Regions from separate parts of the Homo sapiens genome. Here region 2 is linked to region 1. Evidence: fine-mapped expression QTL. Tissue or cell type: T cells. Region 1 holds a variant in brackets; the other region holds the start of a gene. All regions are shown on one strand. Distances are from middle to middle.

Evidence for each region. PIP is the estimated chance that this variant, and not a neighbour inherited with it, causes the effect.
Region 2: USP10 starts here. The variant in region 1 is fine-mapped to the expression of USP10 in T cells (TOPMed, PIP above 0.99).

Annotation. Positions count from the first base shown.
Region 1 is chr16:84,763,418-84,771,644 of GRCh38, reverse strand. It overlaps USP10 (ubiquitin specific peptidase 10), which reads right to left. Exons shown (of 14, transcript NM_005153.3): 10 at 7,382-7,559; 11 at 3,287-3,452. Among named protein-coding and RNA genes, the nearest start is that of CRISPLD2, 52 kb to the left of the region's middle. The variant G/C (reference allele first, on the strand shown) is at 4,715.
Region 2 is chr16:84,696,198-84,704,197 of GRCh38, reverse strand. It overlaps USP10 (ubiquitin specific peptidase 10), which reads right to left and starts at 4,198. Exons shown (of 14, transcript NM_005153.3): 1 at 4,087-4,198. The coding sequence starts at 4,107. RefSeq lists silencers at 3,627-3,736, 3,777-3,886, 3,897-4,116, 4,207-4,726.

The DNA of each region.
Region 1 (8,227 bases):
CACCTGCCTCAGCCTCCCAAAGTGCTGAGATTACAGGCGTGAGCCACCACGCTAGGCCTAGTATTGACCCATTTTAAAATAACTCTGATAGTATTGATAAAACTGATACCAGTAGGATTAGGTGGGTTTTTTTGTTTGTTTGTTTTTTTAAGACAGGATCTCACTCTGGTTGCCCATGCTGGAGTGCAGTGGCATGATGAGGACTCACTGCAGCCTTGACTTCCTGGGCTCAGGTGATTCTCCCACCTCAGCCTCCCAAGTAGCTGGGACTACAGCCATGAGCCCAGCTGGTCTTGAACTCCTAGACTTAAGCAACCTGCTCGCCTCAGTCTCCCACCGTGCTGGGATTCCAGGCCAATTAGATGTTTTAAATAACCTTTAAAGCTATTTATTCTAATCATGAGTTTTATCAATGTAATCTGTTCCTGAAGTACTTTCACAGGTCTGATGAATGCTGCTTTTAAATAAAGCCAGGTTTTTTGTCACTAAGATGCATCTTTACAAATAACAATCCCTTTATCATTCTCTGTACTTACAAAGTCTTTGATGCTTCCCATATTCATTTGGATAACACTTTTTTTTTTTTTTTTGAGACAGTCTCGCTCTGTCATCGAGGCTGGAGTGCAGTGGTGCGATCTCAGCTCACTGCAACCTCCACCTCCAGGGTTCAAGTGATTCAGCCTCCTGAGAGGCTGGGACTACATGTGCACACCACCATGCCCAGTTAATTTTTGTATTTTTAGTAGAGATGGGGTTTCAACATGTTGGCCAGGATGGTCTCGATCTCTTGACTTTGTGATCCGCCTGCCTCAGCCTCCGAAAATGCTGGGATTACAGGCATCAGCCACTGGAGATTTTTTTTTTTTTTTTTTGGGGACGGAGTCTCGCTCTGTCGCCCAGGCCGGACTGCAGTGGCGCTATCTCGGCTCACTGCAAGCTCCGCCTCCCAGGTTCACGCCATTCTCCTGCCTCAGCCTCCTGAGTAGCTGGGATTACAGGCGCCTGCCACCATGCCCGGCTAACTTTTTGTATTTTTAGTAGAGACGGGGTTTCACCGTGTTAGCCAGGATGGTCTCGATCTCCTGACCTCGTGATCCACCCGCCTTGGCCTCCCAAAGTGCTGGGATTACAGGTGTGAGCCACCTCGCCCAGCCAACTGAGGCTTAATTTCTAATCACTCAACAAAGGCAGACATTTTCTATATAGCAAATATTTCATATAATCCTATTTTCCCCAAAACCTTCACATGTTCCCACAGAAAAATACTTCTGATCTAAAACATAATAAAGTTAAAGGTGGCATTTTAAAAACTTAAAAAAAAACACATTCAAGAAAATATGTAATTTGCTCCTTATAGATACTTCCATACAAGCTGTCCCAAATCTTCCTGAAACATCTGCTGTTGAAAGTGGTCCTGGCCTCATCTGGTAACACACCACCACAACCACGCACCCAGAACGGCTGGCAGCATCCTTTTTATCTTCCGGAGTCCACCAAAATGCCAGCTTTCCTTTATTTTTATTTCTTCTTATGTTTTAGAGACACGGTTTCACTATCGCACAGGCTGGAGTGCAGTGGCGTGATCATAGCTCACTGCAGCCTCCAACTGTTGGGCTCAGGCAATCCTCCTGCCTCAGCCTCCCAAAGTGCTGGGACTAAGGGCGTGAGCCACCACACCTGGCCCGCCTTCTTTCTGGAAGCCTTCATCCAAACCTGCTATTTAGGATAAACCATTCTTTCTTCACTACCGTCTAACAACAGGCTAACAACTACCTGCGCCTCAACCCCTGCCCCCACACCGCCACCCCTACCAGCCCACCCCAGCAAAGTCAAACTGTAATTGCAGCAGAAGCAAAAGAGAAAAACAGACACATCACAAAAGGGTCTTCCCTAGGCAGCCCATGGAAAGGCTGACCACCTCCCCAACAGCATGGGTGGCCAAAGACTCCCATAGCTGGCTCAAGAAACAGCATAAGCAGAGTGCACCAGCAGCCAGGGCCAGGGAGCTATCTCTGGAGTTGCAGCTGCCACAGAAGTGAGCCAAGCCGACAGTCACCCACAATGCACAACTGAACCACCCAACCAACCTCCCCAACACAAATACCACTTTTTCCCTCTCTCTCTTCCACGAGGTCCACCGCCAGACTCTTCTTAGCTCATTCACTGAAGTCAACTACCAAGTTTCTGCCTCTGGCTCCTACTGCTTCTATTTTTTAAACAAAATCACCCATGAGATGCAAGTCTGCAAATACGGTAGAAGATTAGGCATAACTTCTACTGATCCCCCCAGAGCCTGGGTGAACCAGTCCACAGCAGGACACCCCGAAGGTGCTAAGGGTCCCTATGTCCTACTTTGCTCTTTCTGACTCAGAGCACACAAGATAAGCCAAGGATAGATCCATCCCAGTCATGCAATGTGATGACAGGTCTTCTACGTTGGGGCACCTTATTTTACCTTGTAGCTGCCATCCACTGCCCATTATTCAAATATCGCTTTGCAGGAATGCTATGGACCGTCCATAATTATCAGCCTGCATTCATCTCCCCAGTGCATTTTTATGAATTCACTGCCACAACCTAAGATATATAACAGAGAAGACACTCTCTGCTGCAGAGTACAAAATAGCTATAAGCTGGCACATCTGGACAGCCAGGAACTAATAAGCTCTCACAGGGCAGAATGCTATCCGTCTCGCCCAACTGAGTTGACAAGGACTCCACCAAGCTATAATGTGATACTCTTAAATTCATGAAGACTGAAAGACTCAAGAATCTTACCTTTTCCAGATCAAATCAAAGAGTAACAAGCATCAGAACAATGACTATATTATATTTACAATGACTATATTATATTTACAATGACCTGGAAGATCTACAATCAAATGCAAAACAGATGTGTCTGGAATCTCTCTGACATCCTAACTAATCTAATGACAGTTGTACCCTACGGTATCATGAACATAAATAAGCTATTTGGCCTCTGTCAGAGGTAGTATTGATGTTGTGATATCATCATTAGATTGCCAGAAAATTAAATGTAGCTCAAGATAAACAATCCAAAAGGAGATCATTACCTTGTGTAATATGATTTAGAGCTAAAAGAGGCCCTTGGGATCACGTTTCAACCATTTCATTGTAAAACCATAAAAACTTTCAGTACAAAATGGTTAAGCAACTGATTTAAGAGGCATAACTCAAACCCATTTCCCCTCATTCCTAATTTTGTGTTCTTTCCACCAAACCAGAGCACCTTAGTAGAAAGGTTCAAAATCAAGTGTGAACATACCTCTTGTTTGGTTTTTGTGGTATAACCTTGGACAGATTCTCTTGCCACCAAGCTCTCCAGTGCATCCTGGACTGTGCGTATCTTGTCTGACTGGATATCCAACTGCAACGTGAAAAATGGCTGCAAAGTGGCAGATTCTTTTGAACTCTGCTGGTAAACCACAGACCTAAGAATTGAAAGCAAAAACAAAAAAATTAAGAGACCACTCCTTGCCACTTTCCCTTAAGATTAACCAAGGGAATAAACACTGAAAATAAGATTATTCAATATCACTTTCAAAAGACCACAGAGAAAAGCCAAAAATATACTGAATTTAAAAATAATTCTGCTGAAGATGTGCTTTGTTAAACAGATGCTTGAAGGCAGCATGCTCGTTAAGAGTCATCACCAATCCCTGATCTCAAGTAATCAGGGACACAAACACTGCGGAAGGCCGCAGGGTCCTCTGCCTAGGAAAACCAGAGACCTTTGTTCACTTGTTTGTCTGCTGACCTTCCCTCCACTATTGTCCCATGACCCTGCCAAATCCCCCTCTGTGAGAAACACCCAAGAATTATCAATAAAAAAATAAATTAAAAAAAATAATAATAATTCTGCTGAATAGCACCTCCTTAGTATTTCTAACAACTAAATCTACCAGTTGATAAATGTTCCCAACGCCAGTGCTCTGGAAGAAAACATATTTCATTTTCCAAATTCTTTCACTTCCTCTCCACACTGTTATTTACTGCACCGGTTCATAAAGGCAGCCACCCTGCCATGGCCTCAAAACGCTGCTGCTTTCCATTTTCTCCAAGTATCATAGCCTGTTCTAATAAAATAGAGGAAATCCCAAGGTAAATAGAGGATTTTTAATGGCATTTTCCTCCTATAAAGATGTCTTACAAAAAGAAGAAGGGGAGTAGGGTGTGTAGAATAAAAAACAAGTTAACATTCCAGGAAAAAAGGCTGCCACCCTTCCAAGAAGGGCGCCAATTTGACCTTGTTTTCTTAGCTGGTTTTTCATTTCATTTTTTTTTTCCTTTTTCTAAGTTTTTCTGAGTAAAAATTGTGTGTTCGGCCCATCTCTCATTTAGCCTCAGCAAGGAAACATTCCAGGGGTTCAACAAGGGCTTCTATTTCTGCAGTCTCGGTGACCTAGTTTCTCAACGGAATAAAATGGGTGTGGACAGGTACTCAGGCTTTCCAGAACAGATGCGGTGAAGAGCTCGCTAAAAGCTTTTCTGTCCAGGGTTTAATTACGCATCTCCATGCTCCTTTACAGTTTGAAGACTTCAGTGACAACAGTTCCCCTGGTTCTGGAGAGGGATACAGTAGTGGGGAAACCGCTCATGAGAGCTGGTGGAGAATCAAGAAGCCCTCTTGATTCAGTGGTCCTGTGTTTTAGCAAAGGTGGCACCGGGGAAGAAAGGCGGGGAAGTCTTCCTG[G/C]GGAAACTGAAAAACATCTGAAGAGGCTGAGTTTTAGAAGTAAATCTTTCAATTGGTGTGAATAAAGAATCATGCTTAACAATGGCTGAAAAGAAGTTCCTACGTTGTAAGAATTCCCTATCTTTGCTTTACCGTTTTTCAAAAAGAAACATCAACAACCAATTTCAACACAGAGACCCCTCAGAGGATGTGGCTAGCAGCTGTGACAGAGCTGTTCAATCTGAGCCAGCAAGTCCTCCAAATGGACGCTGGTATTTTCCACTGGTTACTCTTAGACAAATTTGGGATCTTTGAGTATGCTGACCCTCTGTGGCCTTGAAATTCTGATACCCGGCCTCTGCACAAAAACCATGTTCCCGATGCCTCCATTTGAGCTGTCCATTCATCTTTCTCTCCCATCCCGAGGGGGTGTCCTCACAATCCTAAACCAGGCTGCTGGGCTGAAGGAGCAAAGGGCACAGCCTTCCCTCGCTGCTGCGCGCCAACCTGGACCTCAGCGTCTCCCTCCCAACACGACGTGTCCCAAGGAACCACAGACAGTGGTCAGGGCTGGGTGTTTCCCAGGTGACAACTGACCACCCAGCTGCCGTGGACACTCCACAGAGCACCAGAATAGAAAGGGGCCAGTGGAATAGAGCTCACAGTGCAGAACACAGAAGTGACTTGTTCAAGGTCACATGGCTGCTCAACTGGCTTCTAAATCCACTTCCACAGAGGACGGGAAACCAGCTTCTGAGGGCGTCAGCGCAGGTTTCTGAGGTTCTTATTATTCACCTGTTGAAAGTTGTTGATTCAGTCTCAGAACTGAGACTGAATCAAGTCTTGATGCCTCAAAAGGGGTGCTCTTTCTTTCAGGTACGCAGCATTTGGGACAACAACAGACTAAGAGTGTCACTGAAATACCAGCCTGGGGGTTATGCCGCAAGGCCTCAGAAAGGAAATTAGGCTCCAATGAGGCCTCTTCAGTACTTTCGATGGGTAAACCTTCTTGGAGATGGTACAAGTTTTGCTGAATTCCACATCACAGTGGTACTGAAAAGCTCTCAGGTAAATAAAGAAAAACCTTTCCGAAGGACTTTGTGAATGAGCAAAAAGCTGCTTAAGGGAACTGGCACACAGCCAGGTGCCCAGGGACTCCAGCCCAGTCACGGGTCTGTCTGTGTAAAAAAGACCTCCCTTCACACTCTCTTCACTTTCTACCTCACCTGCTTCCAATCAGTTCACAACAGCCAAGACAGGGAAACAACTGTCTGTGGATGGGCCAATGGATAAAGAAACTGTGGTGTGTATATATAGACAAGGGAACACTATTCAGCTGTAATAAAGACCCTGCCATTTGCCACAACAGGAATGAACCTGGGGAACATTATACTAAGTTAAAGAAGTCAGACACAGAAAGAAAAATATTGCATGGTCTCACTTATACATGGAATCTTTATTAAAAAAAAAAAAAAGACGAAACTACAGAGATAGGGAAAAGAGTGGTTCCTAGGGGTGGCGAGTGGGAATGGAAGATGTCGGTCGAAGGACACCAAGGGCAGCCACACAGGCGAACAGGTCTAGAGATCTGATGTGGAACATCGGACAAGAGCTACTCATAGTGCACTGTATTTGGGACTTTTGTGAAATGAGTAAAACTGCAGCTGCTCTTGCCATGTGCACACACACACACACAAGGGTAACTGTGATGGGGAATATGTTTATCTGCTTCACTGTAGCAACTATTTTACTATCTCTATTTCATAACATCTGTGTATACTTTAAATATACACAATTTATTAACATAAATAAAATTCCTCCAGATACACTGTCTTCTCTTACCAAAACACATGGTTTGGTTAGCTGGTTTTTTTTTTTGAAGACAGTCTTGCTCTGTCACCCAGGCTGGAGTGCAGTGGTGTAATCTTGGCTCACTGCAACCTCTGCCTCCCGGAGGTGGTTTTATGTTGCAAGTTTTAAATGCAGATGAAGTCTAATATATATATATATATTTTTTTTTCTCTCTCTCTCGTGGTTATTGTTTATGACCTATCTTATGAAACCTTTGCCTACCCCTAAGTCATGATGACATTCTCCTGTATCTTTTTCTTTTTTTTTTCTTGAGACAGAGTCTCACTCTGTCACCCATGCTGGAGTGCAATGGCGCTATCTGGGCCACTGCAACCTCTGCCTCCTGGGTTCAAGCGATTCTCCTGCCTCAGCCTCCCTAATAGCTGGGATTACAGGTGCCTGTCACCACACCTGGTTGATTTTTGTATTTTTAGTAGAGACGGGGTTTCACCATGTTGATCAGGTTGATCTCGAACTTCTAACCTCAGGTGATCCACCCGCCTTGGCCTCCCAAAGTCCTGGGATTACAGGCATGAACCACCGCGTATGGCCAATTAGCTGGCTTTTCTCTTACTCCCTAGCAGTGAGCAGCTGAACTTGACAGAGTAGAAGGGAGGAGCTCCCTGTCCCCTGCAGACATGCGCCAGCAGGGAGAGAATAAGCCACGGGGGCTGACAAGGGAAGCATCAGGAAGTGCAAGAGAAGAGCAGGCAGGGGAGCAAGATGCAAACCATTACGTCCAAGAAGTCTCAAAACAAGCCTCACACCTTCCCCCTTCACCAACATGGCAAAACCCTAGAAAAGGCAAATATTAAGTTATTCCAGAAAAGCACAAACCTGATGTGTCCACCAAAAATGCCGGTGATTGGAGTCTGAACAAAATCCGCCTGGCGGGTGACGGAAGTCTTGTTCCGGGGGCCCACTTGTTCCCATTCATCCTCGCTTCCTTCACCTTGTTCTTCCTGCTCTTCTTCATTGACCGAGTGGTTTTTGGGGCCGTTGGAAATCGTAAGTTCTGAAAAGGAGAGCATCTGCTTACACTACTATTTACGACAAGAACAGCAAAAAAAAAAAAGGCACAGATCTGTCGATTGCAGTTTTAAAAATGAAATCAGGGTGTGGTCTACATTAGGAGCCACGGCAACCAATCGCAACAGGAGCAACGTCACTGGATCCACGGCCAATCGCAACAGGCACAATGTCACTGGATCCACGGCAACCAATCGCAACAGGTGCAACGTCACTGGATCCATGGCAACCAATCCCAACAGGCACAACGTCACTGGATCCACGGCAACCAATCGCAACAGGTGCAACGTCACTGGATCCACGGCAACCAATCACAACAGGCGCAATGCCACTGGATCCACTGCAACCCATTGCAATGCCACTTGATCCACGGCAACCAATCGCAACAGGTGCACCACCACTGGATCCTTGTTTACATAAACTCCTAGAAATGACATCCCTGGGACAACTGGCGAAATTTGAAGATGCTCTGCAAAGTCGGTATTACCGTGTCATTACAGTTGTTTTTCTCAGTTAGATAAGGGACTGTGGTTACGCAGGAGATGCTTTAGCACCTGAGATGAACTAAACTGTTAGCTGCAACTTAACTTTGAATCATTCAGGGAAAATGTATGCGTATGTATGTATATATGGATGGACAGATAAGACATATAT
Region 2 (8,000 bases), 67 kb after region 1:
TGAAATTATATCTTTAAAAACAAACAAACAAACAAAAAACCGAAACAAAAACCCTGATGTAACTAATTCAATTGGAGATGATACCACTTTTCTCAATTACTTGAATGTTATATTCTGAGCACAGCACAGTGCAACGTGCCGCTTAGGCTTGGCATTAAACAGCAATCATTAAGCTTCGTAATCCTTTTCTCCTTTAAGTTTTCCTATGTGAATCACTGCTTAAATCCTATCAGTTCCACGTAACAGAACACTGGAATACATGTCCTAACTTTTGCTTTAGTGAGGAATTTAGAATGTGGTAGGCCCGCTTAGTATTCACTGGAATTTCAGTGCGCTGTGCTCTCAATGAGATGGGCTCAAGAGCATGATGGTGAGGTCCTGGTACGGCGCGGCTGCTCAGGCCATCTGTACAAACCACTAAGGCGACCACTGGCTCACAAACTTCTCAGGCCATCTGTACAAACCACTAAGGTGACCACTGGCTCACAAACTTAAAACATCTACTCTTAGGACATGTTTAAATAGCTTGCTGTCACTATGCAAAGGAAAACTGTTATCTCCAAATGCCCTGTCAACATTTCAAACAATTGTATTTACTTCAGCTGCTCATTACTTGAGATTCTAATAAAAATGTATCTCTTTTAAGAATTAACACTAATCCAGCTGTTGGCTAGAAACAGATATTCAGCAATACAGTAACATTCAGCCATATGCTAGAGGGGGAATCCAAGACTTTCCATCATGTAAAATGTGGAGGATCTGCTATTACAAGCTAAAAAAGAGACTGGGGTGAGTCTATGCAGAGACAAGGACAGAAGCCAACTGCATGACATTCAAATTGGGTGTAGGAAGCATTATTGTGGAGATTTCACTATAAATGACATCAATAATCACAAATATTTTTTCGGTGTAAGGCAAAACTAATAGCTTCAAATTAATTACCCCAAATAATTTAACCGGTCCCCTCAGTGACAAGGATATTCACTTGGACCTACACTTCAACTGTTAAAGTTCATTTATTTGTCTTTGCTAAAATGCTGAGTTACCGGTCTCAAAATGTTTCCAAATTCTTCACTATTACACTTCAATACAGGTAACAGGGATCAACCAACACTTTCTAATATTTGGAAATAAGGTTATTAACCTATAAACTTTTTTATTTATTTTGAGATGGAGTTTCGCTCTTTTTTTTTTTTTTTTTTTTGAGACGGGAGTCTTGCTCTGTCGCCCAGGCTGGAGTGCAGTGGCATGATCTCGGCTCACTGCAACCTCCGCCTCCCGGGTTCAAGCGATTCTCCTGCCTCAGCCTCCCAAGTACCTGGGACTACAGGCGAGCTTCACCACACTCGGCTAATTTTTGTATTTTTAGTAGAGACAGGGTCTCACTATATTGGTCAGGCTGATCTCGAACCCCTGACCTCAAGTGATCCACCCACCTGCGCCTCCCAAAGTGCTGGGATTACAGGCACGAGCCACCGCGCTGGCCTGTAAACATTTTTAAACTGTAACTTTTTCCACCTCCCATTATTCTCAGTGACAAATTTAACTTTAACAAGTCAATTTTAAAATAAGACCTTCAATTTGCAGTTGTTATTCCCAACATAAACAAGTAATATACATACCATGACGCTTAATATCTGATAAACAATCAGTATTTGCTGAATGAATGAATGGCCATTAAGGCTGCAAGACTCTTAGGACAGTAGGCAACCAAGTAAAACAAATTTATTAAAACGCTCAGAATGACTGGAGCAGGAACCAGTAACTAAATCCTGTCATACATGATTCCATTACTTGTTTGCATTACTATTCTTTTAAAATGAAAATTATGAGAAATCGGCCAGGCGCAGTAGTGGCTCACGCCTATAATCCCAGCACTTTGAGAGGCCGAGGCGGGTGGATCACCTGAGCTCAGGAGTTTGAGACCAGCCTGATCAACATGGTGAAACCCGTCTTTAATAAAAATACAAAAAATTAGCCAGGCATGGTGGTGGGCGCCTGTAATCCCAGCTACTTGGGAGGCTGAGGCAGGAGAATCGCTTGAACCCGGGAGGCAGAGGTTGCAGTGGGCCGAGATCATGCCACTGCACTCCAGCCTGGGCGACAGAGCAAGACTCCCGTCTCAAAAAAAAAAAAAAAAAAAAAAAAAAAAGAGCGAAACTCCATCTCAAAATAAATAAAAAAGTTTATAGGTTAATAACCACAGCACTCCAGCCTGGGCAACAAGAGCCAAATTCCAACTCAAAAAAAAAAAAAAAAAGAAGAAGAAAATTATGAGAAATCAAACTATTTCCTTTGCTACTTTCTCCATGCTAAAACTTAAAAGCATTTAAATCATACTTTAAAAGAATAAACCCAAAGTGTTGCTAACATTTACGTTCCGCCAACTTTTGCTACTCCAATTTTCTAAAGATGTGTATAACGCTTTAGACTGTTGTATAAAACGTAAATACTGGGACAATGAATGCAAACGAAATTACAATTAAGTTTACATATTATCCATCCCCATTAATTAACATTTCAATCAACCTTGAATTGTGATTGATGCTTATTAAATAAAGGAAGTGAGCTATGCCTAAAGATGCTTTCTTCATGTCAAAATCACAAGGAATATTACACATTAATTCATAATGAGCCTTTTACTTGTTCATACCAATTCTAATAAGCTAGTTAATTAGGATTTAAGTTGAGAAAAAAGCAAATATCAAATCTTTTTTTTTAACAGAAAGGTCTAAACAAAGCTAAATACACCAAATCTCTTAAAATCTTTGGGCTATACATTTGTAAAAATTATTCAACTACTGATCCCTTTTTTGGCGCAAAGACCTACACTACTTACAAAAGTAAATGAATAAGGGAACAAAACGTTAAAGGGGGAAATTCTGATGCAAACTAAACTACAGCTAATTTAACAAAATTGAAGCTTGTCGTAAGATCTAATTTTTTAAAAAGTTTTCGCATTTTAGATTCCACAACACGCATTCATTACAATAGTTCCGAAAATCATGTTTCAAAAGAGGTGTAGTCAGATTGACTTCATCTGCAGAAGGGCAACAAAACCCAATTGCTCATGAAGGGTTATGATTTTACTCGCAATCAGTTTCCCGAATGGCTACTTTGTTTCATTTCCCCATATTTAATACAAATACACAATGAGATGGTTTAAAAGTGTGCAACAATTTATAGGGACCAGATGTCAACAAATTAGCAGTCTAAAGCAAGGCTGACAAATAATACATCATGCCGATTTTTGTCCAGAATAATTATAATGGCGGAGGGGGGAGAAGATGTGAGAGAAGGGGTGGGAGAGGGGAATAAGAGCTTAACTCTACACGCACATCTCCCAAAAAGAGCTCTTTCTTTCCACCACGGGATTATTGTAAAGGGCCCCCAAGCTTTAGCTACTGTTCAGGCAGGGTGCGTTAGTTGTCAGCCTGGCTGGGATGGATTCGTGCAAGGGATGTCACTCAAACGCAAGTGAAAGTACGGTCCTTGCGACTTATTTCGAGTTTTCTTTGCAACAGCAGCCCAAGGCCGCTACTCTGCTACTTCTATCTAAAAAACAGAAAATCGGCAACCCCCGCATCATCAATCAAGCTGAGAAAGGAAGCTCTTGGGGCAAAGGGGCAACAGGGCACCCCCAAATCTCTGAGGCTCGCTCCAGGCAGAGGCAGCAACCTGAGCTGCTCTGGGGCCCCTGCGCTCCAGGGGACTCCCGGAGCCCCCGGGCCGCCTCCCCCGGCCGGCGCGGCGGGGAGGGCCCCACTCCACACCCCGGGCTCGCCCCGCGGTCCAGCCCCAGGGAGGTTAACCCCTTCGGCGCCCTCCACGCCCTCCCCAAGCGGGGCCCGGAGCCCCCGCCCTTCGACCTCCCCGGGACTAGGGGGTCCGGGTGGCTCAGGGGACGAAGGCGCGGCGGGCGCGGAGGCGGCGGGTGGCTCCGGCCTAGGCCCGGGCAGCGTGTCCCAGCGCCCTCCCCCACTCCCACACGCTCGCTCCGGGCAGGGCGCGGACGCCCGCCCGCCGCGGCGTCCGCCCGCCCGGGGCTCGGGCCCCTTCCGGCCGAAGGCGCAGACCGGCGGCTACCTGCGGGCTGTGGAGGGCCATGGCTGCCCGTTTCATTGGGACTCCGCGATCCTCCGGCTGCTCACGCTGCTTCCCCCGCCGCCGCCATCTTCTCGCCCGCACATACACACTCGCATCGGCCGCCGCGCCTGCGCACTGGCCGCGCGCCGCGGGGCGCGGGGAGGCCGGCCCGCTGCTGCGCCTGCGCGGCCGACAGGTGGGCGTGCGCCTGCCGGGCCGCGGACATCCCCTGCCCCGCCTGGAGCCTGCCGGACTCTGAGCCCCGCGACCCTCGGGCGGAAGCGGCCGGGCGGCTGCACACCAGGAGCCCGCCGAGGCCTGGCTGTGGATCCGGAAGGGGAGAGGGCAGGCAGGTAGAGGTGGCAACGCCAAGGCGCCGGCGGGCCCGGCTCCTCACCTACTGGGGGCCACCTGGGCCCCCGGAGCCCGGGAGTCGCGGGCTGAGGTCGGCCTGGGGCCCACGAGCCGCCCTCAGCGTACCTGGGCCCGGGCCTCGGGAGTGTTCGCATTAGATCCCCGAGGAGGGTCTGGTTTATGAAGATCCCGTTGCCGCGCATTCATTCATTTGTTCACTCTTCATTCACTCCCCAAGTCCTGCCTGGGCGCCTGGGCCACGCCTTTGGCTAGGCATTAGGGGAAAAAAGCAAAACAGACAAAAACAAAACGTAGGGCATAAAAGCACGCGTAAAGTGCTTGACATGAGGCCTGGCAAGTAGCAAACACTCAGCAAGTGCTACGTGTTGCACACGTGCGTGCGTGTGCACGGGCAAACCAGCCTTGGGGGTCGTTGGTTCATTCATTATTAAGAAACAGGGGCCCCTGCCTAACTGCACTGTTTTCCAGCCAGTGGGTCCACCCTTGGGTTTTGGCCCCTTTTCTAGCTGTGATTTCAGACAAGCGACTTTCCTTCCCTAAGCCTTGGTTTCCTCACCTGTGAATAAGACAAATATGTCATAACGCGTAAGATTTCTGTGAGGTTCAAATTAGATTAACGTGAGCACACTGGCCAAGAGAATAGTCAATAAAAATTGGCTACTGGGATTGTTATTAATAACCATTACTATTGGTTTCATTTATTCAACAAACACCTACAGAGAGTCTGCTCTTGCTAGACCGTACACTGAGCAGAGGAGATGAACAGGAAGATCCATTCCCACGTTACATAAAATAGGGAGCCTGGTCTCTTCATAAATGGGATGCCATGAAAAATATAAGTGGGCCAGGCGCAGCGGCTCACACCCGGAATCCCACACATTGGGAGGCCGAGGCGGGCGGATCACTTGAAGTCAGGAGTTGGAGACCAGCCTGGCTAATATGATGAAACCCCAACTCTACTAAAAATACAAAAATTGGTGGGATGTAGTGTGGCACACCAGGCGTCCCAGCTACTCAGGAGGCTGAGGTGGGAGGATCACTTGAACCCCGGAGACGGAGGTTGCGGTGAGCCGAGATCGTGCCACTGCACTCCAGCCTGGGTGACAGAGCGAGTCTCTGTCTCAAAAAAAAAAAAAGAAAGAAAGAAAGAAAGAAAAGAAAAGAAAAATATAAGTGGTAGGGAGGGGTTGTTCCAAAATAGAAGAGCTAGAAAACATAACCAAATACAATGTGTCATCTTGCTTGGATCCTGATATGTCTTTTAAGCTGGTTTTACTATTTGTTGACAATTGGAGACATTTGAATATGGATTGGATATGGGTGATCTTCGTGAATTATTGGTAATTTTATAGTGTAATAATTATACTGTGCTCACTGAGAGAATGTCCTTATTGTGAGGAGATGCATTCTGAAGAGTTGAGGAGTGAAGGCCATAATGCCTGTAAACTATTGTTTAATGGTTCAACAAAAGATAAAATCATGTACACACATAAACATTCAGGGAGAGACAGCAAATATGGCAAAATGTTTACTATTGTTGGCTCTAAGTAGTGCTATATATTTCAGCTTTTCTCTATGTTTGAAAATTTTTATAACAAAAAATTGGGGAAAACAATACAATATAGTGTCTGTGCTATAATTTTAACCATGGAAAAGCGATATCTGCACTTGGATAGAAACTGGGGGACGTGAAAACTCACTAGTGATTTATGGTTGTCTCTCTGGCTCGGTGCGGTGGCTCACACCTGTAATCTCAGCACTTTGGAAGGCTGAGGTGGGTGGATCACCTGAGGTCGGGAGTTCAAGACCAGCCTGATCAACATGGTGAAGCCCCGTCTCTACTAAAAATACAAAAATTAGTCGGGCGTGGTGGCAGGCGCCTGTAATCCCAGCTACTCAGGAGGCTGAGGCAGAAGAATCGCTTGAACCCGGGAGGCAGAGGTTGCAGTGAGCCGAGATGGCACCATTGCACTCCAGCCTGGACAACAAGAGTGAAACTCTGTCTCAAAAAAAAAAAAAAAAAAAAACATATATATATATATATATATATATATATATATATATATATATATATAGTTGTTTGTCTGATTTTTATCATACAGTTGCTTGAACAACAAATAAAAGTGATAATAAACAAAAGATCCCAGGCCAGGCACGGTGGCTCACGCCTGTAATCCCAGCACTTTGGGAGGCTGAGGCGGGTGGATCACCTGAGGTCAAAAGTTCGAGACTAGCCTGGCCAACATGGTGAAACCCCGTCTCTACTAAAAATACAAAAATTAGCTGGGCATGGTGGCGGGCACCTGTAATCCCAGCTACCTGGGGGGCCTAGGCAGGAAAATTGCTTGAACCCGGGAGGCGGAGGTTGCAGTGAGCTGAGATCACACCATCTCACTCCAGCCTGGGGGACAAAAGTGAGACTTTGTCTCACAAATAAATAAATATATAAATAAATAAATAAAAAAGATCCCAGTCTTCATTTTCAAATAATTCACATAGATATGAACACATACCTTCAGTACAAGGAAATAGATGTTAAAAGGAAGCTATGAACAAGCACTATGGCCTTCAGTGCTTAGCAGAGCCTGGTGATATACTTCGGCTGTGTCCCCACCCAAATCTCATCTTGGATTGTAATAATCCCCACGTGTCAAGAGTGGGGCCACGTGGTGATAATTGAATCATTGGCGTGGTTTTCCCCATACTGTTCTCATGGTAGTGAGTAAGTCTCACAAGATCTAATGTTTGTGTGTGTGTGTGTGTGTGTGTGTGTGTGTGTGGTTTTTTTGGTTTGTTTGGTTGTTTTTTTGTTTTTGTTTTTGTTTTTGTTTTTGAGACAGTCTTGCTCTGTCGCCCAGGCTGGAGTGCAGTGGCAGGATCTCAGCTCACCGTAACCTCCGCCTTCTGGGTTCAAGTGATTCTCCTGCCTCAGCTTCTGGAGTAGCTGGGACTACAGGCATGTGACACCACGCCCGGCTAATTTTCGTATTTTTAGTAGAGATGGGGTTTCACCATGATGGCCAGGCTGGTCTTGAACTCCTGACCTCAAGTGATCTGCCCACGTCAGCCTCCCAAAGTGCTGGGAATACAGGCGTGAGCCACCACGCCCAGCCTCTAATGGTTTTACAAATGAGAGTTCCCCTGCACAAGCTCTCTTGCCTGCCGCCATGTTAAGCGTGACTTTGCTCCTCATTTGCCTTCCGCCATGATTGTGAGGCCTCCCTTGCCATGTGGAACTGTGAGTCAATTAAACCTCTTTGCTTTATAAATTACCTAGCTTGGGTATGTATGTCTTTATTAGCAGCATGACAACCGACTAATACACCTGGTATCTCCCATGAGTCTGGGGACAGTGGCCTAGGCCTGGAGTCAAGACAGGCCCAAGTTCAAATCTGGAATCCCCCACTCACTAGCTGTGTGAACCTGGGCAAGTTACCTACATTTTCTGTGAATCTTTTGTAGAAGGTGGTGTGATGGGCAGAATAATGCCCCTCCCCTCAAAGATGTCCATGCCCCAACCTCAGAACCTGTGGATATAT